Linked DNA regions of Homo sapiens. The protein of the gene in region 7 purifies or fractionates together with the protein of the main gene of each other region. This does not show direct contact. Each region holds a gene or a part of one and is shown on either strand. Other genes may lie near its edges.

What was found.
Region 1: the proteins of QRSL1 (region 7) and NDUFA10 purify together in Homo sapiens (affinity purification with mass spectrometry; one large-scale study listed by BioGRID and IntAct). This does not show direct contact.
Region 2: the proteins of QRSL1 (region 7) and FAIM fractionate together in Homo sapiens (co-fractionation; one large-scale study listed by BioGRID). This does not show direct contact.
Region 3: the proteins of QRSL1 (region 7) and SPECC1L purify together in Homo sapiens (affinity purification with mass spectrometry; one large-scale study listed by BioGRID and IntAct). This does not show direct contact.
Region 4: the proteins of QRSL1 (region 7) and TSFM purify together in Homo sapiens (affinity purification with mass spectrometry; one large-scale study listed by BioGRID and IntAct). This does not show direct contact.
Region 5: the proteins of QRSL1 (region 7) and CYP24A1 purify together in Homo sapiens (affinity purification with mass spectrometry; one large-scale study listed by BioGRID and IntAct). This does not show direct contact.
Region 6: the proteins of QRSL1 (region 7) and GLS purify together in Homo sapiens (affinity purification with mass spectrometry; one large-scale study listed by BioGRID and IntAct). This does not show direct contact.

The regions. Positions count from the first base shown.
Region 1 is NC_000002.12:240,007,955-240,012,095, forward strand, and holds part of NDUFA10 (NADH dehydrogenase [ubiquinone] 1 alpha subcomplex subunit 10, mitochondrial isoform 1 precursor), read right to left. Parts: exon of another isoform or gene 3,743-4,141; coding exon 3,663-3,742; intron 1-3,662. UniProt on the Homo sapiens protein: Accessory subunit of the mitochondrial membrane respiratory chain NADH dehydrogenase (Complex I), that is believed not to be involved in catalysis. Complex I functions in the transfer of electrons from NADH to the respiratory chain.
Region 2 is NC_000003.12:138,629,009-138,633,149, reverse strand, and holds part of FAIM (fas apoptotic inhibitory molecule 1), read right to left. Parts: intron 4,044-4,141; coding exon 3,994-4,043; intron 221-3,993; coding exon 71-220; 3' UTR 1-70. UniProt on the Homo sapiens protein: Plays a role as an inducible effector molecule that mediates Fas resistance produced by surface Ig engagement in B cells.
Region 3 is NC_000022.11:24,315,389-24,319,529, reverse strand, and holds part of SPECC1L (cytospin-A), read right to left. Parts: intron 1-4,141. UniProt on the Homo sapiens protein: Involved in cytokinesis and spindle organization. May play a role in actin cytoskeleton organization and microtubule stabilization and hence required for proper cell adhesion and migration.
Region 4 is NC_000012.12:57,785,578-57,789,718, forward strand, and holds part of TSFM (elongation factor Ts, mitochondrial isoform 2 precursor), read left to right. Parts: intron 1-585; coding exon 586-714; intron 715-1,462; coding exon 1,463-1,585; intron 1,586-4,141. UniProt on the Homo sapiens protein: Associates with the EF-Tu.GDP complex and induces the exchange of GDP to GTP. It remains bound to the aminoacyl-tRNA.EF-Tu.GTP complex up to the GTP hydrolysis stage on the ribosome.
Region 5 is NC_000020.11:54,170,939-54,175,829, forward strand, and holds the start of CYP24A1 (1,25-dihydroxyvitamin D(3) 24-hydroxylase, mitochondrial isoform 1 precursor), read right to left. Parts: upstream 3,049-4,891; 5' UTR 2,642-3,048; coding exon 2,384-2,641; intron 2,162-2,383; coding exon 1,971-2,161; intron 733-1,970; coding exon 639-732; intron 1-638.
Region 6 is NC_000002.12:190,887,038-190,891,178, reverse strand, and holds part of GLS (glutaminase kidney isoform, mitochondrial isoform 1 precursor), read right to left. Parts: intron 1-4,141. UniProt on the Homo sapiens protein: Catalyzes the first reaction in the primary pathway for the renal catabolism of glutamine. Plays a role in maintaining acid-base homeostasis. Regulates the levels of the neurotransmitter glutamate, the main excitatory neurotransmitter in the brain.
Region 7 is NC_000006.12:106,642,578-106,646,718, reverse strand, and holds part of QRSL1 (glutamyl-tRNA(Gln) amidotransferase subunit A, mitochondrial), read right to left. Parts: intron 3,726-4,141; coding exon 3,629-3,725; intron 1-3,628. UniProt on the Homo sapiens protein: Allows the formation of correctly charged Gln-tRNA(Gln) through the transamidation of misacylated Glu-tRNA(Gln) in the mitochondria. The reaction takes place in the presence of glutamine and ATP through an activated gamma-phospho-Glu-tRNA(Gln).

The DNA.
Region 1 (4,141 bases), on a different chromosome or scaffold from region 7:
GTAAGTAAATACTCCAAGAATGTACAAGCTATTTATTCTCATACTGAAATCAGCATCTGACCCCTACAATGGTACCAAACAAACTTCACCAACTCTGCTGACCATCTTCAACAGACCACTGGTTGATTAAATTACGTAGTACAGGTAAAGTGCTTGTATTTTATTAAGTCTCATCATTACTGACTCACATCACTTCCAAAGTGTAGGAAAAAGAAAAAAGTCTTCAAGCTCTACAATCACTCAGTAACACATCTGTTCCACACAAGTCTATAACTCACAATTCAGAGTCATACAACTGGATAACAGATTCTTACTGCAACGAGATCACTGCACTCCTCACAGCACCCTTAAGATCAACATAAATGGTCAGAAACTGCAAGCAGAATGAACAATAAATCCATAGTGAGGAAAGTAACTTACTGCATTTGCCATTAGGGCTGGCAAGGAAAAGGCCACACTAATTACAGGACTTGCTGTATTGCTTCCTGAACCTCTACAGCTACCCATTGTTAATACGAAGAGAAAGGCACAAAGTGACAAAGGAGAATAATTCCCTCTGCAAGTCACCTAAGTGAATATTCAACTGAAGTGTATAGGAGACAGAGGTCTTAAACATCCCTGATGAACAGGGCTGGCACAGAAACATTATTTGTTCTCACACAGCAATATGAAAGGTCACAAACTATTTGACATATTTGCACAAGAGTGGTCATGAGAGATCAGGACGATGTGACAGTTTCGTTCAACACACATAACTGAACAGACATTAGCTGAAGCCCCACCAGGAGCCAGGTGCTGTGTGGGGTATGGAAGGTGGGGAAGACAGGGCTCCTGCCCTTAATGAGCTCCAGACCCCAAACTACCTGATGAGAGCAACCTGGAGAGTCCATTTTCTATCTTCTGTGCGCCTCCATTCAGCATGCTAACAACCTCGGCAACAGACAAATAAAACCGCCTCCGTCCAGTCACACCTGCCTCTCATTCCCACTGCCTTGTGAAAGGAGGCCTAAAATAAGAAGGTATCAAGTGTGGAGTCAGGGATCTGGAGGAAACCCCCATAAAGGGCTGGGCCAGCAGTTCACGTGCAACCTCAATGGTGGTTATTCCTATAGGTAGCTCAGGGCCGAGGAGAGCCACAAGCTGTATTACTGAACCCCCAAGTTATTTCAATACTTCCAGAGCCTCCCCAGCTCCTCACCCACCTTAGAACAATCTGAAACAATAAAGACAGTTACAAAACTCGCTACATGTCAGGCTGGTCACTCAGTGCTCCTCTTCTTGTCTCTGAAATCTCAGAGGTGACGATTCTTTCTCAGAAAGGCCTTCCCTACTCTGTCTTGTGTACCTCTGTGTCTCAGCTAACACTGACACTGGGAGCTAGCAGTGTTGGAGCTGAGTAAATAAGTATATGTTGAACGCGGGAATGGCCAAATGTTGGTGAAACTAAGTTGATACTCATTAACACATTCACAATTAAGGTAATGAGGAGAAAGACATGTACGCCTAAGATCTGGGTCATAAATATTGACAAAGCCAGAAAATACACATTCCTATGAGAGTTAGCTCATTGTACCTCTTAAAATCCCACAATACAAATATTTTGGAAAAGGCTGCAATGCTCTTTATGCATTCATAAGCAACAAATACAAAAACAGTGAAGCATCACCATGTATCAGCACGTGACAGAGAGAAGGGCTAACACAGGAGGAACTGCTCAAAGACAGGAGACACAGAACTTCAACGGAGCCATCATCTTGTCAGGTCAATCTGCTTTATTTCAAATACTAGTATTAAAACTAAAAACATTTCTCTTATTTAGTTTTGATTTTACTGTTTATTAATTATCTATGATCTAACAATATTGTCTTCTAAGGTCTAACCTAAGATCTAACAATAAAAATATTCAGTATTTAACTAAACAATGGTTTAAATATACAAGCCCGGGAAACCTAATATTGTTTCTGTTGGAAAATAACTCCTGAATTCTAAAATGCTAATGGCCAATAAATTTTAAAATACAACTCGTCATAGGTTTCTTGCAATTTTACAAAAAATAGTTTCAGCCAAATTTCATAGTGAATTTCTATGAGAAAACTTTTAAGATCCAAGTCCATCACAAAGCTGCAGTTTGATCTTGGTCTACAATTCAGCACTTAAAATAATGCATACTGCATAGAGTACATCTGGTACTCATTCTTCAATGTGTGACAAATGACCCCTACATCAAGTGGCTCCCATCAATCCATACGGCTTGAGCTGTCAGATAAGATCTACTTTAACAATGAACAGAGACTGTATCTGTTCCTAAAACAGGAGTTAAAAACACAGCAAGACCAAGTGGTAAGAAATAAATGCTTGAGGCTTAACGAGTCTATGAGGGCGGCAAAGTAAAAGAAACTCTTGCCCTGTGCACAGGCTGAAACCAGCCATTATTTTGCTGATGTTGTAGCTAGAAACTCCATTTGAGAAATTATGACAAAGCTCTTTCTCAGTGATGTTTTTGAAGCCAGAAGATCTCCAAGAGTAATTTTTGAGCCTGAAACTCTAGGGTCAACTATCTCTGTTTATGCTGTTTATTCACGTTGGCTCTAGATACTTCCCTTGGTATTGTGGCCTTGGAAATAGGGCAGTACAACAGGTTAAAAGGAAGCCAGAGGCCACCCAGTCTTCTTACCACCTAAGAAAGAAACGCTCACCACAAACAAGCAGAGATGACATAAACGTTAATACTTACGGTACAGAAAAAACTCCCTGAATAGAACATTTCTCTTATTCACTTTTGATTTTATTATTACCTATGGTCTAACAATATTATCTTCTAAGGCTGTTCATTGTAAATATTCAGTATTTAACTAAAATAAATGTAAAAATAAAACTTTTTTTCTAAAATTGCTATACTTTTGTTTTTATTCACAACTTCAGTTACTTTGAAATTTTAAACAACAAGAACATGAGATTTTTAGGCACCGAAAGAGGCTTAGGGTTTTAAAAAGTATGAGAAATAGTATAAAAATCTTCAATTCAAGCATTATTCAAACAATCTGAGTTTAACTGGACGTGAATGAGTGTGGCAGACATTCCTTACACACGAATATACCCAAGGAGCGCAGAATGACAAGCCATAGGATGAGTGAAACCACATTTTCCATGTGCTTTCAACAAAGAAAGAAAGGGGGAAAAGAAAGAAAAACAGTCTGGTGGTGTTTCCTTCATCTAATCCAAACATCTCTCAAGGACATCAATTAAGAATGTCTAGAGAAAGTGTTATCTTTCATGAATTTTCTCCATGAATACACTTCCAATCAATCCTTCTAGGTAAACACGAATGTTTAGTTGCCACCTGAAGTAAAAATACACAAGTTCTCTATGGTAAAACCTGTCATGGAATAGAGCTTGGTTTACTTCTAGCATCAAAAAACTTCAGAAATATAGCAGAGCAAAAGTACTGACAAGATAAGCAAACCAAAACAAATAAACCAATAAACCCCACAAAAATCAAACTGAAATGTCTCCTGTTTTTCTTATTTATAAACATCAGATTAAACATCTCAGACAATATCCACTGCAGTAAATAAGACAGAAAACTCCCTGGGCTGTTGGGGCCTAAGAAACGAGTGGCGAAGAAGTTTTAGCCCTGTAAATCAGTCGTGTGTTTGGCTCACCTCATCTCAGGGAGAAAGGTTTTCTTATAGGCATTCTCAATGTCCTGTAGATAGGCAGAGGTGATCTTCATTTCATGTGGCTAAACAGAAGCAGAAAAATCAAACTGGGAAACATTTAGAGTTCATTCTCTTTGACCTGTGCGTATATAAAATGCGAAGACAATCACTGACCACCATTTTCTTACAACTCACACCGGGCACTGTGGGGACTGCGGGGTGACAGCAAAGGGTCCCAACATCAGCTAGAGTCATTCTCCTTCTACTACAGTGAACACCTGAGCCTGCCCAAGTGCTCCCATAGCGTGACTTTCTCCACACATTCTAAGATGTATACTTAGGGCAAGAAAGATGCCTGTTACGAAGCAGCACTGCCTGTCTTTCCTGTCTGCCTCGTGCCTGAGTGCAGGAATGAAAGAGCACCAAAAATTGGGGGCAGCGGCCTGTCTGTCCGCCATCTGTCCTCAGCACACTCTCTTCTT
Region 2 (4,141 bases), on a different chromosome or scaffold from region 7:
CATACTGAACACATTTAATTACCACAGTAATTAAAAAGTCCTGATCTTTACTTCTTAAGATGAAAATTCATTAACTTGCAATCTCTGGGATTTCTCTATTATCCACAATGAGAGTATGAATAATCCCTTCTTTCCGCTTCCCACTACTGACAGCCTTTATGTAACAGTCATGGTTCCCGATACTGAAGTGAGTTTCAGTCCCATCATCTACAAACTCACCCTGGAGCAACAAAAGAAGAAGGAATTAGTGGTGCAGAAACTTTTATCTCTGTCTAGAGCATTCACACCATCTAAAAGTACTAGTAGTGCAATAAAATAATGTATTAGTTAAACAATAAGCTTTGAAAAACAAAGTCTAAAGCTTGTACTTAGATGCTTTTACATTTCTGTTATGAATTGAAAGTTTCCTTTTCATAACCCCTACAATCCTTAAGAATCTTAAATTCTTGGGGGAGGAATATAAACCTCATGACTATGTGTCTATGTTTTCAAAAATAAAAATGATAAATATGACATTTATTAGTTATTTATAATATACCTCAAGTGATCTACCCACCTTAGCCTCCCACAGTGCTGGGATTACAGGTGTGAGCCACTGCATCCAGCCAGGGATGGAGTGTTCTTAGCCACTCTGAAAATCTGATTCCTCTGGGTATAAGGTGGCTTACAGTAAAATATACATATAACAAAACCAAACACCACTAAATCTATACCTGTTCTGTTCAATACAGTAGCCACTGGCCACATGTGGCTATTGGGCACTTCAAATTGACTAGTCTGAAAATAGATATGCTGTTTAAATATAAAATAGACACTGGATTTAGAAGACCTAGTATGAAACAAAAAAATGTATAAAATAACTTTTTATACTGATTACATGTTAAATACTATTTTTGGTATATTGATTTAAATCAAATATAATATTTAACTTCACCTAAAATTTTTTCAAATATGGATACTAGATAAATTAAAATTACACATGAAGGTCCTATCTGTGCCTCATATTATGCTTTGATTGAGTAGCAGTGATCTAGAGTAAAAAGATTAGCGCCAGGTAGCGCAGAGAAGGAAGGAAGAAAGAAGAGGCTTAGAGGATAAAAAAAAGATTTATGCCAGAAAGCAAAGAAACCAAAAATCAGACTTAAACCCCCTGGCTATTAGCTTCCTGGCAGCCAAAGTAGATAGAACAAGGCCCCCCAGTTAACAAACCAAGCCAAAGAAGGCACAGGATGCCTCAGGGAGAGAAGCCTTTTCCTAGCTCTGGGAAGGATGTGGCCCGTGGCTCCTTATGGGAGGTATGCTGAATACCACAAGCATGTCCTTGGGTGCAGTGTGTTCTTGTCCCCATTTTTAATATTGAGCCTTGAAAAAAGACTTCGGAAGAAAGGGCAAGGGTTAGGTAATACAATCTATATACGTAGCTTCTTGGCAATTGGACAAATATATAATTTTGGCACGATGCTTTGAGATAAAAAGGAGAAAATAAGCTGTAACTCACAGGCAACAAGATGAGTTTGTTGTGGGTACGTACAGTACTGGGGAAGGCTGCCTAGATATGGGGCTGCCCAAACTGCCCTGCAAACTAGGTTGTAGTTACAATGAGAAGGCAACTGTGTTATAAAGAGCTATTTCCAAACACATGTAGTTTCCTGTTAATTACTACAAAACAAAGACATGTGGATGAATATTATTTTCACCTTTTTACAACCACAACAACATTCCTTGTGTATGTGTGTGACAGGGTCTTGCTCTTGCCACCCAGGCTGGAGTACAGGGGTACAACTGTAGTTCATTGCAGCCTTGAACTCCTGGGCTCAAGCAGTCCTCCTGCCTCAGCCTCCTGAGCAGCGGGGACCAGGTACACACCACCATACACAGCTAACTTAAAAAAAAAAATTTATAGAGATAGGGCCTCATCATGTTGCCCAGGATGGTCATGAGCTCCTGGCCTCAAATGATCCTCCCATCTTGGCCTCCCAAAGTTACAACTGCATTTTTTTTTTTTTTTTTGAGACAGGGTCTCACATTCTGTTACCGAGGCTGGAGTGCCGTGGTGCAACCTTGGCTCACTGCAGCCTCAATCTCCCTGGGCTCAGGTAATTCTTCCACCTCAGCCTCCTGAGTAGCTGGGACTATAGGCATGTGCCACCATGCTCTATTAATTTTTGTATTTTTAGTAGAGAGGGGTTTCGCCATGTCACCCAGACTAGTCTCTAACTCCTAGGTTCAAGCAATCTGCCCGCCTCAGCCTCCCAAAGTGCTGGGATTACATGCATGAGTCACCTCGCCCAGTACAACCATATTCTTAATACCATAAAACAGCATTCTCTTTACATGTGCACTGGAGAATTTCTTGAATATGGGAGGAAATGCAATTCAAAAGTGCTGATTCCCTATCTAGAGAATTCCAGGGTAGGAAAAAAAGAACAGGAAGAACCACCAGGTATGGCATTGGGCACACAGTAGGTATCTGATCCATGTTAGTGGTAACTGGAGTTTTTCCAAAGGGGGCCATAAAATACTGAAGCACTCTCCAAGCCTCTCTGCATAAAAGAAGTCTCTATCAGTAGATTTAACCCAGAGAACAGCTCAAGCACTCAATTTAGAGTGAGCCCAAATTAAATTCTTCAGGACTCAGAAACAGAAAAGCATTCATCTTCGTAACTTTTAAATTTCAATTGATTGATTAATTTTTTTAGAGATGGGTCTCACTATGTTGCTCAGGCTGGCCTAAAACTCCTAGGCTCAAGGGTCCCTCTCACGTCAGCCTCCCAAGTAGGAAGCCACTACAGACCTGTGCTACCACGTGTGGCTTCATCTTTGTAATTTTTGATTTCTGGTTTTGTCACCTCCTCAGAAACAGCTATCAGACCAAGTAGGTTCTAGGTGGTCTTCTGAATGAATTAATCCCAGACCTCCTTTCCTCCAACTACCAAAATCACCTTTTCTCACTGTCTTAAACCTATACTATACAAATGAGATAAAAGCAACTACAACATGCAAAATGTGACCAGAGAAGAGAGCTTCCGATTATCTCTAGCCCTGATGTTCACATCTGGAGCCAGCATGAAAGGTGGGTCCCAGGGATAGCACTCCCTGCTTGGCCCACAGACCCCATAAGACATGGGGATTACCACCCAGTGATTTCGGCTCCTAGTCCCACACTTTCTGTTTCCCACTCTCTCCCCTGTGCACACTACTACTGTTTCACTCCTGCTTGAAATTCACTCCTACATTCATCCCATCCACAGCCATAGTAATCCAAGCACCTGATAGCAAAAGTCAAACACACTGGAGTCTATCTAGATGGGGATTTCAGTGTGCCTGGCCACAGTGACTGGGGGAGCCTCTTTCTCCTCGCATTGGCACTGCTGGTCTAAAATTCCACTTGTCCTCCGGGGTTCGTGAGAGTGCCCTTTCCTGTTCGTCTACCTTCGTGTCATCTGATATTGTATCACTCATTTTACAAAAATCTCGCTTTCAGAAAAGAACCATCTGCTTTGAGTGTATGGTGTAAAGCATTCCTAAAGTGTGATCTGTGGACCAGTAGCATTAGCAGCACCTAGGGAAATGTTAGAATTAGCATTTTAACAAGATTCCAGGCAATTTCTGTGCATGCAAGTTTGAGAAGCAGTGATAACGCACCACTTCAAATGGATCAACACAAGAGGACACCAACCTCTGGGGATATAATTTTTTAACTAGGGGCTCTTTTTAGGTATTTTACTTGCTATGCTGGAGCCTGGTCCAGGACAGGAAAGGGAGAGTATGAAGCTAGTGCCAGCTAAGAACATGAGTTGTTTCCAAACTCACGGTACCAGGCACCATCTGGCAAAGGTTTTCAGAATCTGAAGTCAGGAGTACTTAATCCCTTTTTTGTTTTTATCAAGAGGGCCTTGATTCATTATAAGATCTCTATAATTAGGAAATGCAGCAACAATTCAATGGTAACTGAGACACATGGCACTTAGAGTCATCAAATAGTCAACTTACCGCTGTCTCCAATTTTTTACCATTGCACCATACGTCCATAGCATCTTTTTCTGTAAAGGTAACATAAAAACTTTAAGTTATAATTCTGTGATTTAAAGATAAAGTTAACTTTTCCTATTTATTACTTTAGGAAAGGATTGATATACCA
Region 3 (4,141 bases), on a different chromosome or scaffold from region 7:
ATTAATCTAGAGGATACTGATATGGTTTGGCTGTGTCCCCACCCAAATCTCATCTTGAACTGTAGTTCCCATAATCCCTATGTGTTTCGGGAGGGACCTGTTGGGAGGTAATTTAATCATGGAAGCAGTTACCCTCACGCTGTTCTCGTGATAGTGAGTTCTCATGACAGCCGATGGTAAGGGGCTTCCCCTTTGCTTGGCTCTCATTCTCCTCCTTCCTGCCACTATGTGGAGAAGAATGTGCCTGCTACCCCTTCCACCATAATTCTAAGTTTCCAGAGGCCTCCCCATCTCTGTGGACCTGTGAGTAAATTAAACCTCTTTTCTTTATGAATTACTCAGTCTGGGGCAGTTCTTTACAGCAGCATGAGAATGGACTAATACAGATTCTAAGTGGAATACATAAGGAAGAAAGCAGAGCAGCAGAGGAGGAATGTGGGCAGGTAGATCAATGAGGTAAAAGAGGTCCCACATTCAGGGGCGGCAGTAAGAACAGAGAAGAGGCAAGAAATCTGTGACAGATATCAAAGGCAAGAGTAACCAGACTGGGATAAACAACTGTATACGGAGGCCAAAAATGGAAAAAGATGGCATAACTTTTTTTTTTTTTTTGAGGCTCTGTCACCCAGGCTAGAGTGCAGTTGTGCCATCACAGCTCACGGCAACTCTACCTCCCAGGCTCAGGTGATCCTCCCACCTCAGCCACCCGAGTAGCTAGGACTACAAGCACACGCCACCATACCCAGCTAATTTTTGTATTTTTTGTAGAGACGGGGTTTCACCACATTGGGCATGTTGCCCAAGCTGGTCTTGAACTCCTAGGCTCAAGTGATCTGCCCACCTTGGCCTCCTAAAGTGCTGGGATTACAGGCGTGCACCATCGCACCTGGCTGGGGTAACTTTTTTCCCCAACATTAATTCCTTTCCCTAGTTCTGCAAGTGGTACCACATCCTTATCTAAATCAAAAATCCTTATAAAAAAGAAAATCTGGCTCTCCCTCTCCCCTCTCCCCTCTTTCCACGGTCTCCCTCTGATGCCGAGCCGAAGCTGGACTGTACTGCTGCCATCTCGGCTCACTGCAACCTCCCTGCCTGATTCTCCTGCCTCAGCCTGCCGAGTGCCTGCGATTGCAGGCGCGCGCCGCCACGCCTGACTGGTTTTCGTATTTTTTGGGTGGAGACGGGGTTTCGCTGTGTTGGCCGGGCTGGTCTCCAGCTCCTAACCGCGAGTGATCTGCCAGCCTCGGCCTCCCGAGGTGCCGGGATTGCAGACGGAGTCTCCTTCACTCATTGCTCAATGGTGCCCAGGCTGGAGTGCAGTGGCGTGATCTCGACTTGCTACAACATCCACCTCCCAGCAGCCTGCCTTGGCCTCCCAAAGTGCCGAGATTGCAGCCTCTGCCCGGCCCCACCCCGTCTGGGAAGTGAGGAGCGTCTCTGCCTGGCCGCCCATCGTCTGGGATGTGAGGAGCCCCTCTGCCTGGCTGCCCAGTCTGGAAAGTGAGGAGCGTCTCTGCCCAGCCGCCATCCCATCTAGGAAGTGAGGAGCGCCTCTTCCCGGCCGCCATCCCATCTAGGAAGTGAGGAGCGTCTCTGCCCGGCCGCCCATCATCTGAGATGTGGGGAGCGCCTCTGCCCTGTCGCCCCGTCCGGGATGTGAGGAGCGTCTCTGCCCGGCCGCACCATCTGAGAAGTGAGGAGACCCTCTGCCTGGCAACCGCCCTGTCTGAGAAGTGAGGAGCCCCTCCGCCCAGCAGCCGCCCCGTCTGAGAAGTGAGGAGCCCCTCCGCCCGGCAGCCACCCCGTCTGGGAAGTGAGGAGCATCTCTGCCGGGCAGCCACCCCGTCCAGGAGGGAGATGGGGGGGTCAGCCCCCCGCCTGGCCAGCCGCCCCGTCCGGGAGGGAGGTGGGGGGATCAGCCCCCCGCCCGGCCAGCCGCCCCGTCCGGGAGGCGAGGGGCGCCTCTGCCCGGCCGCCCCTACTGGGAAGTGAGGAGCCCCTCTGCCTGGCCAGCCGCCCCGTCCGGGAGGGAGGTGGGGGGGTCAGCCCCCTGCCCAGCCAGCCGCCCCGTCCGGGAGGTTGGGGGGTCAGCCCCCCGCCCGGCCAGCGCCCCATCTGGGAGGTGAGGGGCGCCTCTGCCCGGCCGCCCCTACTGGGAAGTGAGGAGCCCCTCTGCCCGGCCAGCCGCCCCGTCCGGGAGGGAGGTGGGGGGGGTCAGCCCCCCGCCTGGCCAGCCGCCCCGTCCGGGAGGGAGGTGGGGGGGGTCAGCCCCCCGCCCGGCCAGCCGCCCCATCCGGGAGGTGAGGGGCGCCTCTGCCCGGCCGCCCCTACTGGGAAGTGAGGAGCCCCTCTGCCCAGCCAGCCGCCCCGTCCGGGAGGGAGGTAGGGGGGTCAGCCCCCCGCCCAGCCAGCCGCCCCGTCCAGGAGGGAGGTGGGGGGGTCAGCCCCACCGCCCGGCCAGCCACCCCCTCCGGGAGGGAGGTGGGGGGGTCAGCCCCCCGCCCGGCCAGCCGCCCCGTCCAGGAGGTGAGGGGCGCCTCTGCCCGGCCGCCCCTACTGGGAAGTGAGGAGCTCCTCGGCCCGGCCAGCCGCCCCGTCTGGGAGGGAGGTTGGGGGGGTCAGCCCCCCGCCCGGCCAGCCGCCCCATCCAGGAGGTGAGGGGCGCCTCTGCCCGGCCGCCCCTACTGGGAAGTGAGGAGCCCCTCTGCCCGGCCACCACCCCGTCTGGGAGGTGTACCCAACAGCTCATTGAGAATGGGCCATGATGACAATGGTGGTTTTGTGGAATAGAAAGGGGGGAAAGGTGGGGAAAAGATTGAGAAATCGGATGGTTGCCGTGTCTGTGTAGAAAGAGGTAGACATGGGAGACTTTTAATTTTGTTCTGTACTAAGAAAAATTCTTCTGCCTTGGGATCCTGTTGATCTGTGACCTTACCCCCAACCCTGTGCTCTCTGAAACATGTGCTGTGTCCACTCAGGGTTAAATGGATTAAGGGCGGTGCAAGATGTGCTTTGTTAAACAGACGCTTGAAGGCAGCATGCTCGTTCAGAGTCATCACCACTCCCTAATCTCAAGTACCCAGGGACACAAACACTGCGGAAGGCCGCAGGGTCCTCTGCCTAGGAAAACCAGAGACCTTTGTTCACTTGTTTATCTGCTGACCTTCCCTCCACTATTGTCCTGTGACCCTGCCAAATCCCCCTCTGCGAGAAACACCCAAGAATGATCAATAAATAAATAAATAAATAAATAAAAAGAAAATCTGTTCATGTTTGAAAGATAAAAGAAGAAAAATTCTTCTCTGGATTACTGTAATGAGTAGACAGAATAATCTGAGGTAAAGACAAGTGAATTGATACATGGAAATCAAACAGTCTTAGGAAAGTCACTGGAGGAGGTAAAGGTAGAGCAGATGAACTGAAGAATAAGGATGTTGTTATAGGCTGAACTGTGCCCGCACAAAACACACAAAATTAATATGTTGAAGCCCTAACCCCAAAACCTCAAATGTGACTGCACCTGGAGACAGGATAATGAAGTTAAAGAGGTAATTAACGTAAGATGAAGTCATTAGGGTGGGCCCTAATCCAACATGACTGGCGTTCTTGTAAGAGGAGGAGATGAGGACACACACACAGAGGGAAGACACAGAGAAGGCAGCCATCTGCAAGACAAAAAAGAGATCTCAGGAGAAAGTAAATCTGCTAACACCCTCATTTCAGACTTCTGGCTTCCAGATTTGAGAAAATAAATTTCTGTGGCTTAAGCCATCCAGTCTGTGGTATTTTGTTATGACATCCCCAGCAAAATAAAATAAACGTACAAAGCCATACTGGGGCAGCTAATCCAGAGAGGTGATAACTGAATCCTGAGGTCAGGTAGCATCAGTCAGTAAGAAACTAAGTATACAAACACATGGAATCTCTCCCAGTACAATTCTAAAGGCAGGAAACAGGAAGACATGCAAATGGCAAGAGTATTTAATTTCCTTCCTACCACATAAGCTACAATGTTAAATGTGGTGATGACCCCAGGCTTGGGAGTAAAAGACCTTGCCTCACCACCAGCCTTGTGGCCTTGTCAAAACAGATCCCCAATAAATATTTACTGAGCAAATGAATGCATGGCCTTGGCCAAGAC
Region 4 (4,141 bases), on a different chromosome or scaffold from region 7:
TCAGCCACCCGAGTAGTTTATAAGTTGGAGTACACTCTAAAATAACAATAAAGCATATGTATTATAGTAAATACATAAGCCAGTAACATAGTTGTTCATTATTGTTTCAAGTATCATGTACTATATGTAATTGTATGTGCTATACTTTAATAGGACTGGCAGCACAGACGTTTTCTTTACACTAGCATTGCCACAAACATGTAGGTAATATGTTGCCCTACAATGTTAGGAGGACTACCGTGTCACTAGACAATAGGAATTTTTCAGCTCCATTATAATCTTAGGGACCGTCATCATATATGCAGTCCGTCATTGTCCAAAATATCGTTATGTGGTGCGTAACTGTATAAAGAAAATACAACTGTGTGCCCCATAGGGTTGTTGTGAAGATTAGATTCATCCAAGGCACCAGTTATAATAATACCTGGTATTTGGCATTTAGTGGTAGACTGCCAGTAAATGATAGATTACTTTAGTTTCTGTTAGAGAATTTAGAGAATCAGGAAACCTGAGTATATCTTAGAACTACATTTAGTGCTAAATTCTGTGACTTTGTTGTCTGCTCTTTTTCCTCTCAATTTACAGGCAGAGATCTGGCTCCACAAGGAGGCCCAGAAGGAGGGCTGGAGCAAAGCTGCCAAGCTCCAAGGGAGGAAGACCAAAGAAGGCCTGATTGGGCTGTTGCAGGAAGGAAACACAACTGTATTAGTAGAGGTGAGTTGTTGGAAATTCCAGATACCAAGAACAGCTGTCCCTTGGGTGTAAAGCTTGTAGTAGGCCCTAAAGGGGCCTGTTCTTGAAGAAGAGATCTGTTTAAGAACCATAAAGCGTAGTTGAAGTTAAACTCATGAAACCCTGGGTATTAGTTACGAATTCGTTTAAGTATAGAAATGTACTGGTGTGTTGATGAGAAATGGCCTGACAGTCTAGAATATTACTCCTGAATGTGAGTCTGGCACAGGCTTACACCTTGTCACTGATTGTTTCCTGGAACAGTTAGATTACAAGTTAATTATATTAATTGTTGCTGAATAGAGAGTAGGTATTTTAGAGGAGGTTTGGGGGCCATAATTGGTGAAGAGTCAGATGTGGATTAGTTTAGAGTGAGAGATGGGGATAAACAAGATAATAGCATAAGTGGTTTGGAGTTGGGATGGCTGGAGAATGAGGTGATGATGGTGTGCAGACATAGGTAAGTGGTGAACTTGTGGTGAGTCCTTCAGGACATTATTGAACCATCTTCTGAATATACAGGCTATTGCTAACTCACTGGCCCAACATAAATCACTTCATTCTGTTCCAGGCTAGGAGAGGAAGCGTAGCTTTAAAATTTTGGAGTCATTTTTTTTCCGTTGAGTCTGTAGCTTGTTCTATCAGTATCTTGATTTATTCTCCAGCCTTAAGGCACTTTTGGAAATTATCATTAAACAGCTTATACAGCTATATCAATTTGTTCCCACAGGTAAACTGTGAGACAGATTTTGTTTCTAGAAATTTAAAATTTCAACTGTTGGTCCAGCAAGTAGCCCTTGGAACCATGATGCATTGTCAGACCCTAAAGGATCAACCCTCTGCATACAGTAAAGTAAGTTTGGGATTTGTCTCCAGTGTGCTGAATTTGCTGTCCTCATTGGGTCTTTTGCTGTTCCTATTGTAGACATTCTCATGTCTCATTCTGTTACTTCACATCTCTGCTTAAATGCTATCTCTTTGCATAGAATTACCCTTCCCCCGTTGCTATATCCCCGTGTCATGCTGCATTTAAAATTTTTTATTATGGTGCTTATATATTACATTTTAATTTATCTGTGTGTTGTCTATCTTCCCCAGCAGAATGTAAGCTTTATGAGGCAGGGAATTTGTCTTTTCACTGTTGTATCTCTGGTGAAAGAGAATTGGGCCCACTACTTAGTTGGAGCTCAGTAAATCTTTGTCAGATGAATGAATGAATGATTGAATGCATGCATGCCAGTGAAATGGAGTTAGCCAGATCAAGTGAAGCCATTTGAGGCTTTGTGTTCAGAAATTTGGAATGGTCTTAGGAAAGAATTTCTAAATAAAGAGATTGGAGCCAGGTGTGGTGGCTCACCCCTGTAATCCCAGCACTTTGGGAGGCCGAGGCAGGCAGATCACCTGAAGTCGAGAGTTCAAGACCAGCCTGACCAACATGGAGAAACCCGTCTCTACTAAAAATACAAAATTAGCTGGGCGTGGTGGCGCTTGCCTGTAATCCCAGCTACTTGGGAAGTTGAAGCAGGAGAATCGCTTGAACCCGGGAGGTAGAGGCTGCAGTGAGCCGTTGTACTCCCCCCGGGCAATAAGAGCAAAACTCCGTCTCAGAAAAAAAAAAAGAGAGAGAGATTGGAAAAGACATGGTTTAGGAAAATAAGCATATTCTTATCCATAGAGGGATCAAGGAAAGGAATTATGTCATTCTGCCTTTGACTCAGCCTTATTGCCAAGGCAAAGATGAACCAACCACTCACAGTAATTTTTTTGAGTTTATTACCAACTTTTTTTATCTTCTTTATCCTTCTCTTGAGATGTCTTGGTAAATGTTAATTATTATTGGCATTACATAGTCATATGGAAAACAATGTTGAGATTATTTTTTTTAATTGTATTGAGTAGGTAAGTCACTTGAACTAGAAATTTTAGCTTTGATTTTGCCAGTAAACACCAGTGTACCCTTTTTTTTTTTATTTTTGTTTTTGTTTTTTGAGATGAAGTCTTGCTCTGTCACTCAGGCTGGAGTGCAGTGGTGCAATCTTGGCTCACTGCAACCTCCACCTCCTGGGTTCAAGCAATTCTGCATCAGACTCCCGAGTAGCTGGGACTACAGGCGCCCGCCACCACACACGCCTAGTATTTGTATTTTTTGTAAAGACAGAGTTTCACCATGTTGGCCAGGCTGGTCTTGAACTCCTGACCTCAAGTGATTCGCCCGCCTCCGCCTCCCAAAGTGCTGGGATTACAGGCGTGAGCCACCATGCCTGGCCCCAGTGTACTCTTTTTCCAGATTTGCCATTTATTAACATTTTGCTGTATTTGCTTTATCACTTCTTTTTTTCTTTAAGAGACAGATCTGGCTTTCTTGCCCAGCCTGGAGTGCAGTGGCACAATCATTGTTCACTGCTGCCTCAAATTCCTGGGCTCAAGTGATCTTCCCACCTCAGACTCCTGAGTAGCTGGGACTACATGTGCACACCACTATGCTAGGCTCATTTTTAAGTTTTTTGTAGAGACAGTCTTGCCATCTTGCCCAGGCTGGTCTCAAACCTCTGGGCTCAAGAAATCCACCTGCTTTGGCCTCCCAAAGTGTTGGGATTATAGGCTTGGGTCACTACAGCTGGCCCTATCACTTTTTATATACATGTTATCATCGCCCTTTTTTTTTTTTTTTTTTGAGATGGAGTCTCTCTGTCACCCAGGCTGGAGTGCAATGGTGCCATCTCGCTCACTGCAACCTCTCCCTCCCAGTTCAAGCGATTCTTCCACCTCAGCCTCCCAAGTAGCTGGGATTACAGGCACCTGCCATCATGCCCGGCTAATTTTTTTTGTATTTTTGTAGAGACGGGAGTTTCACCATGTTGGCCAGGCTGGTCTTGACTCCTGACCTCAGGTGATCTGCCCACCTGGGCCTCCCAAAGTGCTGGGATTACAGGCGTGAGCCACTGCACCCGGTCATCATCACTGTTTAAAAAAAATCTTTTTGTAAGTATGTTGCAGACATCAGGATCCTTTATTCCTTCAGCATGTATCTCGTAAAAACAAGGACATTGTTATATAACCACAGGACAGTGATCACATTTAGGATTTTTTTTTCTTTGAGACGGAGTGCAGTGTTGTGATCTCAGCTCACTGCAACCTTCACCTCCTGGGTTCGAGCAATTCTTATGCTTCAGCCTCCTGAGTAGCTAGGATTATAGGCATGCATTACTACTTCCAGCTAATTTTTTTGTGTTTTTAGTAGAAATGGGGTTTTGCCATGTTGGTCAGGCTGGTCTCGCACTCCTGACCTCAGGTGATCTGCCCGCCTTGGCCTCCCAGAGTGCTGGGATTACAGGCGTGAGCCACCGCACCCAGCCAAAATGTGTTAGTTTTAGTAGTTGTCATTCTACTGTTAGAAATAAATTTCCCT
Region 5 (4,891 bases), on a different chromosome or scaffold from region 7:
CAAATACCTTAGTATAATACAAAAATATTGTTAAGACCTATCCAGTATCATTTCAGAGAAAGCCTCACATCAGCTACACTAAATGACCGATTCTCTGAACACACCACGTCATTTCATGCCTCCCTGTTTTCAGAAGGCTACTCTGTCTGCCTTAATGCCTTCCCCCACTTTCTCTGCTTTCAGACTCCTCCTGCAAAACCCAGCTCAAATATCACTACTTAAGAACTTTACAATGTTATCTCATTTAATTCTCACAGCAAACCCGTGGGGTGGGAACTGTTACTCCCATTTTGTAGATGGGGAAACTGAGGCTTAGGGAAGGTAAGTGGTATATAGCCAGGTCTCATAGCCAGGGAGTGGAAAGCTGGGGTTCAAATCCAGGGCTGTAGAATACCAAAGTCCACACTCTCCATTGCTCCCTCATTGTGATATGACTTTAAAAGAGGGTGGAGGAGGGAGAAATAAGGGTTTGGTGGGGAGGAGGCTGTAGGAAGGAATGGAGAGAAAGAGAAGACCCCCACTTTGAATCACCCGAATTGCATTCTTTTTTCCTTTGTTCTTTGTAGCTGTGACTTGAAGCTCCACCAATATCCCTATGTCCCCACGAGCCCCAGGAAAGCTGGCCCCAGCCTGCAGACCTCATTGATTTTGTTGTCCAGCTTCATCACTTCCCCTGGTTTCATTAGTTTCTTTTGAAAGGCACTCCGGACCCGCTGCCAGTCTTCCCCTTCCCTGTGAGAGAAGCAGGAATACATTTAGAGCACACTGAAAAGAAAAGAAGGAGATGCAGAAATACTCCAGCTGCAACTTCAGGAACCATAAAATCAAACAAACACTGAGAATCATGCCAAGAAATAGCCAGAGAATATTAGCATCAGAATATTTGGGATAAAATAGTGATCATCTTTTGACAATAGTTTGACAATAGGATGAAAAAGCACCTTTCCTCCTAGTCAAAGATTGCACCAAAAAGTTGAAGTCCAGATAATTTGGGTTCAGGGATTTTGAGGTGTCCTTGCAGGGAGTGGGGCTGGGAGGCCTGGGGACAATTCCTAGCGGTAAAAGGGGGCATGTGAACACCCCATCACCAGCAACTCAGATCTGTTTGAGGGAAGAATCTTGTCTTCTTTCAACTCATTGGTGTGGGCTTCATATTTACAAAATATCTCAGATTTAGAATTTTGCCATCGCCTCCAAATAATAACATACAGTCAGAGAGTCACTGGAGTAATAAAAAGCCTTTTGCGATCGTGCACTTGTAGGCACCTGCCCCATAGCAGACCATACAGCCTGTGAAGCACCGTGAATTAATAGGGTTTTTAATTCCAGTCATTATATCCTGGAAAATATAACGATTAGGCATTACAGTTTGGGGGTAAATAAAGGTGCTAACTTGTTAAATGCTAACAACTAAAAAGCAGAAGAATCACATCCCATAGTAGCATTTGTCGACCTAAAACACAACTTTGATATCCCTCCTTATTCCACCTTTACAAGTAGAAATAAGGCATGTCCCCCAATCCTCTGCAGAAAATGTCACTGTAAAAAGCCAAAGAGGCTAACTCCTCGCTTTTGAGCTTACAAGGTGTTTCAGGGAGTTTTAAGGGATAATTTTGTTTGTATAAGATGTTTGCCTGGTACGCTGACTTCAGAACCTCATCCTGCCCAAGAGTCTGAACACCACAGTTGGTACAACCCTGTTTTGGCGTTTCTTTGATGGGAGGGTGTGGCCCTGCCCTGTTGCCAGAGAGAACGCAGGTGCTGGGTGCACAGCACGGCTTTTCCGTGGACCGACTCTAATCTGTACAAGAGCTCAGGGTTGCGATGGCACGGGAGAGGGGCTTTGGTATCCGCCCTACGTAAGAAGCTTCCAACCCCAGGGAACTCTAACTCCGCCTCTTCACAATTTCCAGGCGCCGTCAGGCTCATCAGGTCTGGCCGCATGCCCAGGTCCCTCGGATTGGACTCACAGGATCAGCAGCCCGTAGCCTTCTTTGCGGTAGTCGCGATAGGCCTTCCACGGTTTGATCTCCAGCCGCTGCGGGTACGCGCTCTCGGTGCGGTACAGCGCTTCCAGCAGGCATGGCGAGCCCAGGTGCACCGACTCAAAGGAACCCAACTTCATGCGGAAAATCTTGCCATACTTCTTGTGGTACTCCACCTGCAGCCGGCCGGGCACAGCGCGGTGTCAGCGCGCATCCTCCGCCGTGCCCGAAGCGCTTTCCCTCCTCCCGCCTCCTTCCTCCTAGGGGACCGGGGACCCTCCCTGCCCAGACGCCGAAGCGCACCATGCGCCCGAGGCGCGCATGTCGGGGAGGGTTTGGAGCGCCACTGGGAGGGCGGAAGAGGGAGGAGAGAGTCAGGGGCGCGAAAAGGGGTTTACCAGGGTGTCGTGCTGTTTCTTGAGACCCCCTTTCCAGAGAATCTGCAGCAGGCTGCCCAGCAGTGGCCAGCTGGTGGGGCCCGGCAGGGCGGCCGCGTTCTGAGTCTCGCCACCAGCTGTCAGCGGGCAGACTGGCACCTCTCGCGGCTGAGGGGACGTGTACGCCGTAGATGTCACCAGTCTCGGGGGCTGCCTCGGACTGCGCAGCTGCTGCAGGAAGGCGGCAAGCGAGCGGCTCTTGCTGATGGGGGAGCTCATGGCAGCGGGGGACACCGGAGCGCGGGAAGGCAGGAGGATGGGGTGGGGCGAGGTTGGTACGAGGTGCTAGTGGGAGTCGGGGCTTAACGATTCTGGGAAAAGGAAGCAAAGAGGGCCAGCTGGTGTGATGGAGCGGGGTGAGGCGGGACAGGCAGCAGAAAGGACCTCGGCGAGGATGCTCGACGCTGCACCACGCGACAGCCTCAGAGCATTGGTGCCTCCTTGCACTGGCCGCAGGGGCTGGAAGAGGGTGGCCGGTGTCTGGGGACCTCTTGAAAAGGGAAAGCTGGGAGTCCTCCTGTTGGTCCGCAAGGCTGACCTCTAGGGTCTGGCTGGAGCCACGGGGAGGTGTCAAGGAGGGTAGATGAGATGCTGCTGGCGCTGCGTTTCCTCCTGTCCCTCTCCATGTTCCTATGCCCAGGGACCATGCATTTATGGAGACAGAGCATGCCCTGGGTGGCCAATGAGCACGCAGAGGAGGGCGGAGTGGCCCCCGGCTGGCCAGACTCCGAGGGACGCGGGACCCAGGGGAGGGGGGGTGGAAGGAGGATGGAGTCAGCGAGGTGAGCGAGGGCGTCCGGGCCTGGGGTGACCGGGGCTATGTTCGCTGGGCGCGGGAGGTGGGGTGGGGGCGGCAGACTCCACCCCGGAGATAACCCCCAGGAAGTCATGCGAAGCCCGGAGTTCACCGGGTGTGCTTCGAACGCGCCTCCCCGCCCTCCCCCGGCGGGCAGGAGCCGGCAGCGGCGGCCGTGGTTGCCGCCCGGCGCTTGCACAATCGCGATGCCGGGCGGGCGAGGTCCCCGAGTGCGGGCCCAGAAAAGCTGCCGGCGTCTGCCAGGGCCCCGGGGAGCCCGGGCGCCTCCCGGGGAGCCAGATACCCCCAGCCTGGACTGAAGTGATTTTTTTTTTTTTTTTGCCTTTTTTTTTTTGGAGGAAGTTTGGCTTTCTGCGCCTCCCAGGGTGGGGAGGATTTGAGTCTTACTGAAATGCACCAGAAGAGGAGACTTTCTTAACTTGAGCAAGAAGGGGAGTTTGTAGAATTTCCTTCCTGCTGTTTCATGTTTGGTTGTTTTGCAGATTAAATGAATTAATGCACGTAAAGCGGCAACAACGAAGCCTTGTCTATAGTCAACAGTCAATAAAAGTTAGTTGCTGTTGTTACTTCTTTAGGAAGTTAGGAAATGCGCCTTGAGAGCGTGGCTTGCACCAACGATGCTTGAATTCAGGCTGGGCCACCTCCCCTATGTCCACTGCCCGCCTCTGTTCTTCTACACCGACTACCTTGTGCAAAGGAGGGGCACACAGAGCTTGAAACCACCGCCCCCAGTACTCCCCCTCTCCCCCAAGGTGCGTCCTAGGCAGGTCCAGTGACAAACATACACAATTTCTAGAGTTACCGCGGCTGGCAAGAGTAGAACTCGCTTTGCTAATTCAGGAACGGAAGTTGGAGATTTTTGTTGATTGTTTTAAAGTGGCTCGAATCCTTTCAACCTGATCCAATACAAAACTACCACCAGCCAGGGAGGAGGGGAGGGACATTCTGTTTCCTCGCCCTGCTTTTCAATTACGTGTCTCAGTCATTTTTGCCCCAAGTGTTGGCAAATCCTTCCCTGGTAAATTCTTTTGTAAGCCTCTAGTTTGTTTCTTAAAAATCTTTTGCAGTCCAACTTAAGCTTTAACACCATCATTTCTGATTTGTCTGGAGGGGCTAATGACTGTTTATGTTAATAAAAATAATAGCTATTGATATATACTAAACTTTATGAATCTTGTACATATTTATATATACATTGTATGGTATATATGTTACAGCATACACTATAGATTATGTTATATGCAATACACACTAAATATACATAATATAGTATAGATTGCATACAGTATGTAGATTCCATATGTTATATAATATTCTCATGAAAGCTTTCTAGGGCTTATGATAAGTCAGGCACTGAGCTAGACATTTTACATCATTTTTTCCGTTTAGTTCTCATCTCAGCCCAATGTCAATAAAATGAAATAAAATAAAAAACAAAAAAAAATCAAAGACAAACAAAAAAACCCTTGACTCTTACAGAGCTAAGTAATTTGCCCAATGTCACAGACGTTACCATTGGCTCAGGTGGGATTCAGACCCAATATTTTCTGATTCTAGGCTGGGCCCTAAATAGTACACCCATATACATCATGCTATGTTATGTCACTTTTTCTTAAACCAGAGTGTCTCAGAATATTGGAAGTATTTCTTAA
Region 6 (4,141 bases), on a different chromosome or scaffold from region 7:
AAGTATTTAATTTTGCCTTAATCGGTAGGGGAAATCAAGAAAGTTTCTAATCTGTAATTAGGAGCAACAAGGCAAACTCATCTTCATCAGTTCAAAAATCTTATAAATAAAAAACTATCAAATGAAAGGAAGAAAATAAAAAAAAAATCCTTACTAAGAACTACAAAATGAACAGAGGAAAATAATTGAAACCAACTGTATGGTCTTATTTTGTTAAATAACATTTCATATTACCTAACCTCCCCAAACTATAAAGCTTCAAGGCTGGGGTCAAGTCTTTCTTATTTTTTTTTTCGCATAACTCTTAAAACACATAGTATAGTATGGTAAACCTATGAGACAATGAAAAACTGTCTTTTCAAGTGGGATTAAAAAAAATGAGGCCTAATAATAACACAATACAAAAGGATTTGCTAGTCTTTATGCCTTCATTTAAGAATAATGATCCTTCAGATGATAATTCAGGGTTGTTTTAAAATCAGTGTATCATTTTGAATTTATAGTGAGCTGACTGATAACAACCGTCTATCAACACCAGCAAACTGGCAGATTAATAAACCTGTTAGATAGAAAGTTGAATTGATGGTGGCTGACCATATAGTAAAATAGCATATGAGAATGAATGTTAAGTCTAACAAATTGACAAATTCTAGTTATCATCCAAGTGATTTTGCCCCAAGGCTAATCATTGGTTGAATTTAAAAATAAAAACTTACATCTTTTAAGGCTTTACTGCTAAAAAAGGACTCTCACTTTCTATCATATTAAAACCCTATGAGGTAAATTAAGGTGGGTTAATTGTCCCCAGTGTACAGATAAAAGAGAGTCCTAGAAGAGTGTGGTGGCATGCACCTACAGTCCCAGCTACTTGGGAGACTGAGGCAAGAGGACTGCTTGAGCCCAGGAGTTCAAGGCTGCAGTGAGCTATAATGGCACCAATGTACTCCAGCCTGGGTGACACAGCAAGATTCCATTTCTAAAAAAAGAAAGAAAATGTTAATTTAAATTTTAAATTTAAAAAAAATTTTGTTTTAAGAGTATCCAAGTCAAGCAGAATGTCCAATGTCACATAAATCTTAAGTGGCTGGACCAGAATTAGTCCTACAAAGCTCATCCTTTGTTCCCAGTTCCAGACTCTTCCTGCTCTGCCACCTCATGCTCTCAGTGGTTAGCACTCTATTTTAGGAATAATATCTGTAATTCTTAAACAATAATAAATTTCTAACCAAAATGCACATAAGAGAACTAAACTGGTCTGCCTTGATAAAACTGCATCCTGTCAAAGCAAAGATGAGATTATATTCAATTAGTGCTGCTGTTTTGACTGGACTTTATAGCACAAATTCATTTAATAGCACACCAAAGTAAAAAGCACAAAAGCCACTTTATGTGAGGAAATGGTCAGGCTGCCCCTGTCAGCTCATGGTAATTTGTCCATACGTTTGCACAACTTCAGAAGTTTGACCCAAAAGGCAGTCTGGCTGTCTCGGGTGGGAAGACTAGGATCTGGGGAGATCAAGTCTATAACATCCAACTCTGTTAGTTTTTCCAATAACTCATTTCTTCAGCCAAGTATCCTTTAATATATCAGTCTAGATGGAATAATACAGATACTATATGAATTCTGTCACTGCAATCACTCTGATACCACTATAGACAACTTGTTCAGAATAACTAACATATATAGGTAGAAGTTAATGAAAAACTTCAGCCACACATAAGGAAAAATGAAACAGCTATGAAAACGGAATGGGCTGCCTTCTAAGGGAGTGAACTCCCTTGTGAAGGCAGTATTCAGGTAGAGATGAATAACAACAACCTATAGGGAGTATGTAACAGAAGAGAAGAAAGCAGCAGCTGGGGAGAAGGGTTTGTAAGATCTCTTATAATCCTCAATCTAAAAAAATTAACTCTATAAATTGAATTAGTTTGCTGCTAATAGATGAAAAATAAAAAATCAAAACAAGTCCTAATACTGTCTGAACTTGTTTAGGTCATTTAATATCTGCGGGCAGCTTATATAATACGTAAAATGAGCTGGAATTAAATGTTCTTTAAAGTTACTTCCAAGCTTAATTCTCAGTTTTTGAGTTGCTAAAAATAGATGTCCTCCAAATCACTACACTAAAGTGAGATCATAAACTTTATTCACTCACAACTTACATACTTTTATTTTACACATTAGCATATTCATCTGGGTTCTAAAACTAACAGAAGTATTTAATGCCACTGAACTAGGGAACTTAAAAATGGTTAAAGTGGTAATTTTTATGTTATGTATATTTAACCACAATTTTTTGAAAAAGCTAAGCAGAACTGGATACAGAAGGTAAGAGTGAAGGAGGATAGCTAAAGTAGAGACATGAAGAACAGTCAACTGATACAAGATACAAAAATCCACAAAAGAACAAACCCACCCTTAAGAGTACTGGTTAAAGCAGAACCAATCAAGGCATGAGAGAACTTACCAATAAATATATTTTAGTGTAGGGCTACGCAAACTACAGCAGGGACCTCCTCTTTTTGTAAATAAAGTTTTATTGGAAGACTGCCACATCTATTTACCTATTGTTTGCAGCTATTTTGCTACCACCACTGAACTGAGAAGTTGTAGTAGTGACTAGAGAACCCCAAAAGCTGAAAATATTTACTATTTGGCCTTTCAGGGAAAGTGTGCCAGCACTTGTCTTACAGCATCACTGTATTACAGTGCAGTATAATAATGCATCCTTAAAATACACATAAGTTGAACAAGAAATGTTAAACTCTATTGATTACAATGTTTTAATATGGCAGAGAAATATGTAACATTTACTAGGGAGATATATCAAGCATAGTTTTAAATTTTTAAAGTTTGATGTTTAAGGGTACCAGTGAATATGATTAGACAATGCTGATAAACAGGAGCTGTGCAAATTCATACATAACCTATTTTCATACTTTTCTTTCAATGTAATGGTGCTTACTGTTCTTATACAACCAGAATCAGGATATTAGAAGAGTAGACAGTAGAGATTTACAAGTTCAAAACTTAACAGATGTGGTTCCTTTGATTTTCAAAACTATGGAATGTTTTTTACTGTTTTAGACGTTTCCCACTTATAATGGGGGGGAAATCTTAAAAGTAACAAAAGGAGGCAGGAAAAACAATGCTCGTTCTCATAAACCACAACTGCTAATGTCATTTTGGCTTATTTCCTTCTATTACTTTTTCTGAGCTTTTTAAATAGCTTGAGATCATACTGCATAGAAAATTCTGTATTCTAACTTTTGGCCGTTATAACATTACCTTATATCCTAAAAAGTACCTGCAAACATTTTAAATGACTAAATAAGAGACCCTCATATGAATGTACCACAATTTACTTAACTATCCCACTAATGTTGAACATGCGTTTTTCTCCATTTTTCTCTAGTATGCATAACACTGTACCAAAAATAATAGGAAATAAATCTTTCTAACACTTCAGTTTATTTTGTGAACTTAGATTCCTAAAAAGGTATGAATACTTTGTAAGTTCCTCATAGAGCTTAAAAATTGCTCTTCAGAAAGTTTACCATCAAGAATTGAAGGACGGGTCTATGTCACTCAAAATATCCTCATCAAGAAGACAATTTTAAAAATCTTTTTTAGAAGCCTGTACCAGAAATAAATAGGCAAAAATATATTTCTTAATCCTGAAAGCTATCAGTTTTATTCATTATGCAACATCTACAGTTCTATGTTTCGAAAGTAATGCTTTTACTATAAACATTTCTTTATAATGAATTTAACATATCAAGCAGAGGACACTCCCAAATGGAAGTCAAGGTACATTAACATTTTGCTTCTACTACGTTGTAGGGGGTCAGAAAATCACTAAGTGCAGTGATGACTCACAAGTAATGTGTTTCATAACCAAAGCAATTTTGCACCTGAGTAGATTTCAGGGTAAAACTGTACTAACAGTATCTCTATGTGAAAGCTATGTACCTCACTGAGAGATATCAGTAATTAATAACTATTTTTATAAATACATCTGTTTACTCACCTTTCTTAAGCATTTCTCTTACTAGCAAATGACTTAAAGGTGAAAAGGCACAGACAGGCAACTATAAAATATAACCTTAATTTATATAGGATTTAACATGATTGAGCTCC
Region 7 (4,141 bases):
TGCTTCATGTGTCCTATCTAAAAGAACTCTGACTAATTCAAGGTCACTAATACTTTTCCCTGTTTTTTTTAATTTTTTTTTTCTGTAGAGACAGGGCCTCACTATGTTGCCCAGGCTGATCTAGGACTCCTGGGCTCAAGCAATCCTACTGCCTCAGTTTCCCACAGTGCTGAGATAACAGGCATGAGCCACCAGGCCCAGCATCCCCTACATTTTCTTGAGTTTTATGATGTTAGGTTTTACTTTCTTTATCTCTTATCCTGGAAGATTTTCACAGCCCTTTTTTTGTTTTCATATGATATTTTAATAGAATGGTTCTCATTTTGGATTTATCTTTTGTTTCCCCATTATTAGAGTCAGCTTACACATTCTCAGCTGGAATATTACATAGGTGATATTGTATCCTCAGACAATTACATCTGGAGGCACATAACGTCCACTTCACCCTCACTGGTGATGTTAATTTTGATCAGCTGATGAAGGCAATTTCCTGAAAGCCTTTGTTCAAATATACTCTCATGGATTAGTTCATTCAACATATATATAATGAATTCCAAGATATACCACTCTGAACTATACACGCAAGGACTCTTGTTTCTATGAAACAGAGAACAATGACCAAGCAAATATTACAAATGTGACAAGTGTCATAAAAGGGTAAGTATAAAGTACTTTTGGTGAAAGACTGCTGTTCCCTAAGATCAAGATCAAGGCAAGGAAATCTGCTCTCACCACTTCTATTCAACATTGCACCTAAGGCCCTCACTGGTGCAGTAAGGCAAGAAGAAGAAATAAGACTAACTCTATTTGTAGACTACACAATTTGCTACATAAAATATTCCACAGAATCCACAAAGATCAACTAGAACTAATAAGCAAGCTTTAACAAGGTCATGGGATAAAAGGTCAATATAGAAAAATCAATTATGTTTCAATGTACTAGCAATAAACAATTAGAAACTGAAAAAAATACAATTTTCTATAGCATTAAGAAACATGGCTGGGGGCGGTGGCTCACGCCTATAATCCCAACACTTTGGGAGGACGAGGCGGGCGGATCACAAGGTCAGGAGTTTGAGACCAGCCTGGCCAATATGGTGAAACACTGTCTCTACTAAAAATACAAAAATTAGCCGGGCGTGGTGGCATGTGCCTGTAGTCCCAGCTACTCAGGAGGCTGAGGCAGGAGAATCTCTTGAACCCAGGAGGCAGAGGTTGCAGTGAGCCGAGATTGCACCATTGCACTCCAGTCTGGGTGACAGAGTGAGATTCTGTCTCAAAAAAAAAAAGAAAAGAAACATAAAACACACGAATAAATCAAATTATATGTACAATTTATATGCAGGAAATCATAAAAACATTCCAGAGTAAAACAAAATGTATGAGAAGACATGTATTATGATGCCGATTCTTTCCAAGTTGATCTATAAATTCAACACAATCACAATCAAAATCCCATTAAACTTGTTTGTAGAAATTAGCAAGCTTATTCTAAAACATATCAGAATATAACAGATCTAGATTATGTAAAATGATTTTGAAAAAGAAGAACAAAGTTAGAAGACTCTTACTACATAATTTCAAGGCTTACTATAAAGCTATAATAATCAAGATGGTGTGACACTGGAATAAACAGAGATGCAACAGAGTCCAGAAACAGACCTACTGAATGTGCTTGATTCTTGACAAAAAAACCTAAGATCATTCAACAAGAAAAGGATAATCTTTTTTATTATTAGTGCTGGAGTTAATGGACATCCATATGTTGAATAAATGGACTTTATTCATACTATATACGAAAATCTAATTCGAAGTGAATAACAGATCTAAATGTAAGAGCTAAGACTATAAAACTTCTAGGAAAAAATTCTTTGTGACCTTTGTTAGGTAAAGATTTCTTGGCCAGGCACGATGGCTCACGTCTATGATCCCAGCACTTTGGGAGACCAGGCGGGCAGATCACCTGAGGTCAGGAGTTTGAGACCAGCCTGGCCAACGCGGTGAAACCCCATCTCTACTAAAAATACAAAATTAGCTGGGCCCGGTGGTGCGTGCCTGTAATCCCAACTACTCGGGAGGCTGAGGCAGGAGAATCGCTTGAACCTGGGAGGCGGAGGTTGTAGTGAGCCGAGATCGTGCCATTGCACTCCAAGCACTCCAGCCTGAGCAACAAGAGCACAACTGTGCTTCAAAAAACAAAAAACAAACAAACAAACAAAAAAGATTTCTTAGGACACATGAATCATAAAAGAAAAAAATTCAGCCAGGTGAGGTGATGTGTGCTTGCAGTCCCAGCTGCTCGGAAGGATGAGGTCAGAGGATCACTTGATGCCAGGAGTTCAAGACCAGCCTGGGTAACACAGATAAACCCCATCTTTAAAAAATAAAGGAAAAAATGGGCCTGGCACAGTTGCTTTTGCCTCCCAACACTTTGCTGGACCAAGCTGGGAGCACAGTTTGAGTCCAGGAGTTTGAGATCAGCCTGGGAAACCCAGTGAGACCCTGTCTATATGAAAGGAAGAAAACAAAAGGAAAGAAAGAAAAGAAGGCCGGGCGTGGTGGCACATGCCTGTAATCCCAGCACTTTGAGAGGCCAAGGCAGGTGGATCATCTGAGGTCAGGAGTTCAAGAGCACCCTGGCCAACATGGCGACACCCAATCTCTACTAAAAATACAAAACTTAGCTGGGAATGGTGGGGCATGCCTGTAGTCCCAGCTACTTGGGAGGCTGAGTCAGGAGAATCGCTTGAAGCTGGGAGGCGGAGGCTGCAGCGAGCCGAGATCGCACCATTGCATTCCAGCGTGGATGACAAGAGCAAAACTCTGTCTCAAAAAAAAAAAAGAATGAAAAGAAGAGAAAAAAGAAAAAAATTGATAAACTGGACTTTATCAAAATTAAGAACTTTTACTCTTTGAAAGGCATGTTCAGAGAATAAAAAGATAAACCAGAGACTTGAAGAAAATATTTGCAAATCAGCACCTATCTGATAATGGATTTGAATCCAAAATATATGAAAGAATTCTTTTTTTTTTTTTTTGAGACAGAGTTGCACTCTTGTAGCCCAGGCTGGAGTGCAATGGCGCGATCTCGGCTCACTGCAACCTCCGCCTCCCGGGTTCAAGCGATTCTCCCGCCTCAGCCTCCCAAGTAGCTGGGATTACAGGCATGCGCCACCACACCCAGGCAATTTTTGTGTTTTTAGTAGAGACGGGGTTTCTCCATGTTGGTCAGGTTGGCCTCGAACTCCCTACCTCAGTTGATCCACCTGCCTCGGACTCCCAAAGTGCTGCGATTACAGTCATGAGCCAGAAAGGATTCTTACAACTCAATAATAAGATGACCCAATTTCAAAAAATGGGCACAGAATTTGAAAAGCTACTTCACTGATGAAGACATAGGGATGGCAAAATAAACACATGAAAAGATGTTTAACATTATTAGTCATCAGGGAAATACAAGCCAAAAGCAAAATTAGAGATGACTATATATCTATTAAACAACATAACATAATCTCACAGAGGGACTAAGAAACTGGCATTAGATCCTCAATCCTTTTAGGTAACTACATTTAGTGAAAATAAAGGCACAGACAGAAGAAACTCAAGAGAAGATTTCAATTTTACTTACCCCATAGCAAACTCATCTAAATTTGTTTTTCCCATTAGTAGAGCTCCCTGATCCAACAACTTCTGAACTACTGTAGCATTATAAGGTGGTATATAACCTGAAAAAAATTTAGTTACTATTATTTTTTTTACAGTCCAGAAGTCTTTTATTTGTTTATACCTATTATGCCATGAATTCACAGGGAATAGGCTCCAACAGCTCAGGAGCCTTCCCATTGGTTCTCACACAGTGCGCTTCTCTGGGTGGAGCAGGCTGGCACGTCAGTTGAACCCAGGTACCTTTCTCTTTGGCTTCCTTCTTTTCCTCATCATTTTCCTCAATGCGTTTCAGGAAGCTATCTCGGCTCTTACAGTACTTACTGTGCTCAATATGCACATTCATTCTCTTGGCAAGAATCTTGCCCTTGTTTGTTTACAACAATGCCAACAGCATGCTGGGGAACACTGTGTACTCTCCAGTTTTGCCATGGTAACACTTGTGGGGCATTCCTTTTTGAACAATACCCATTCCCTT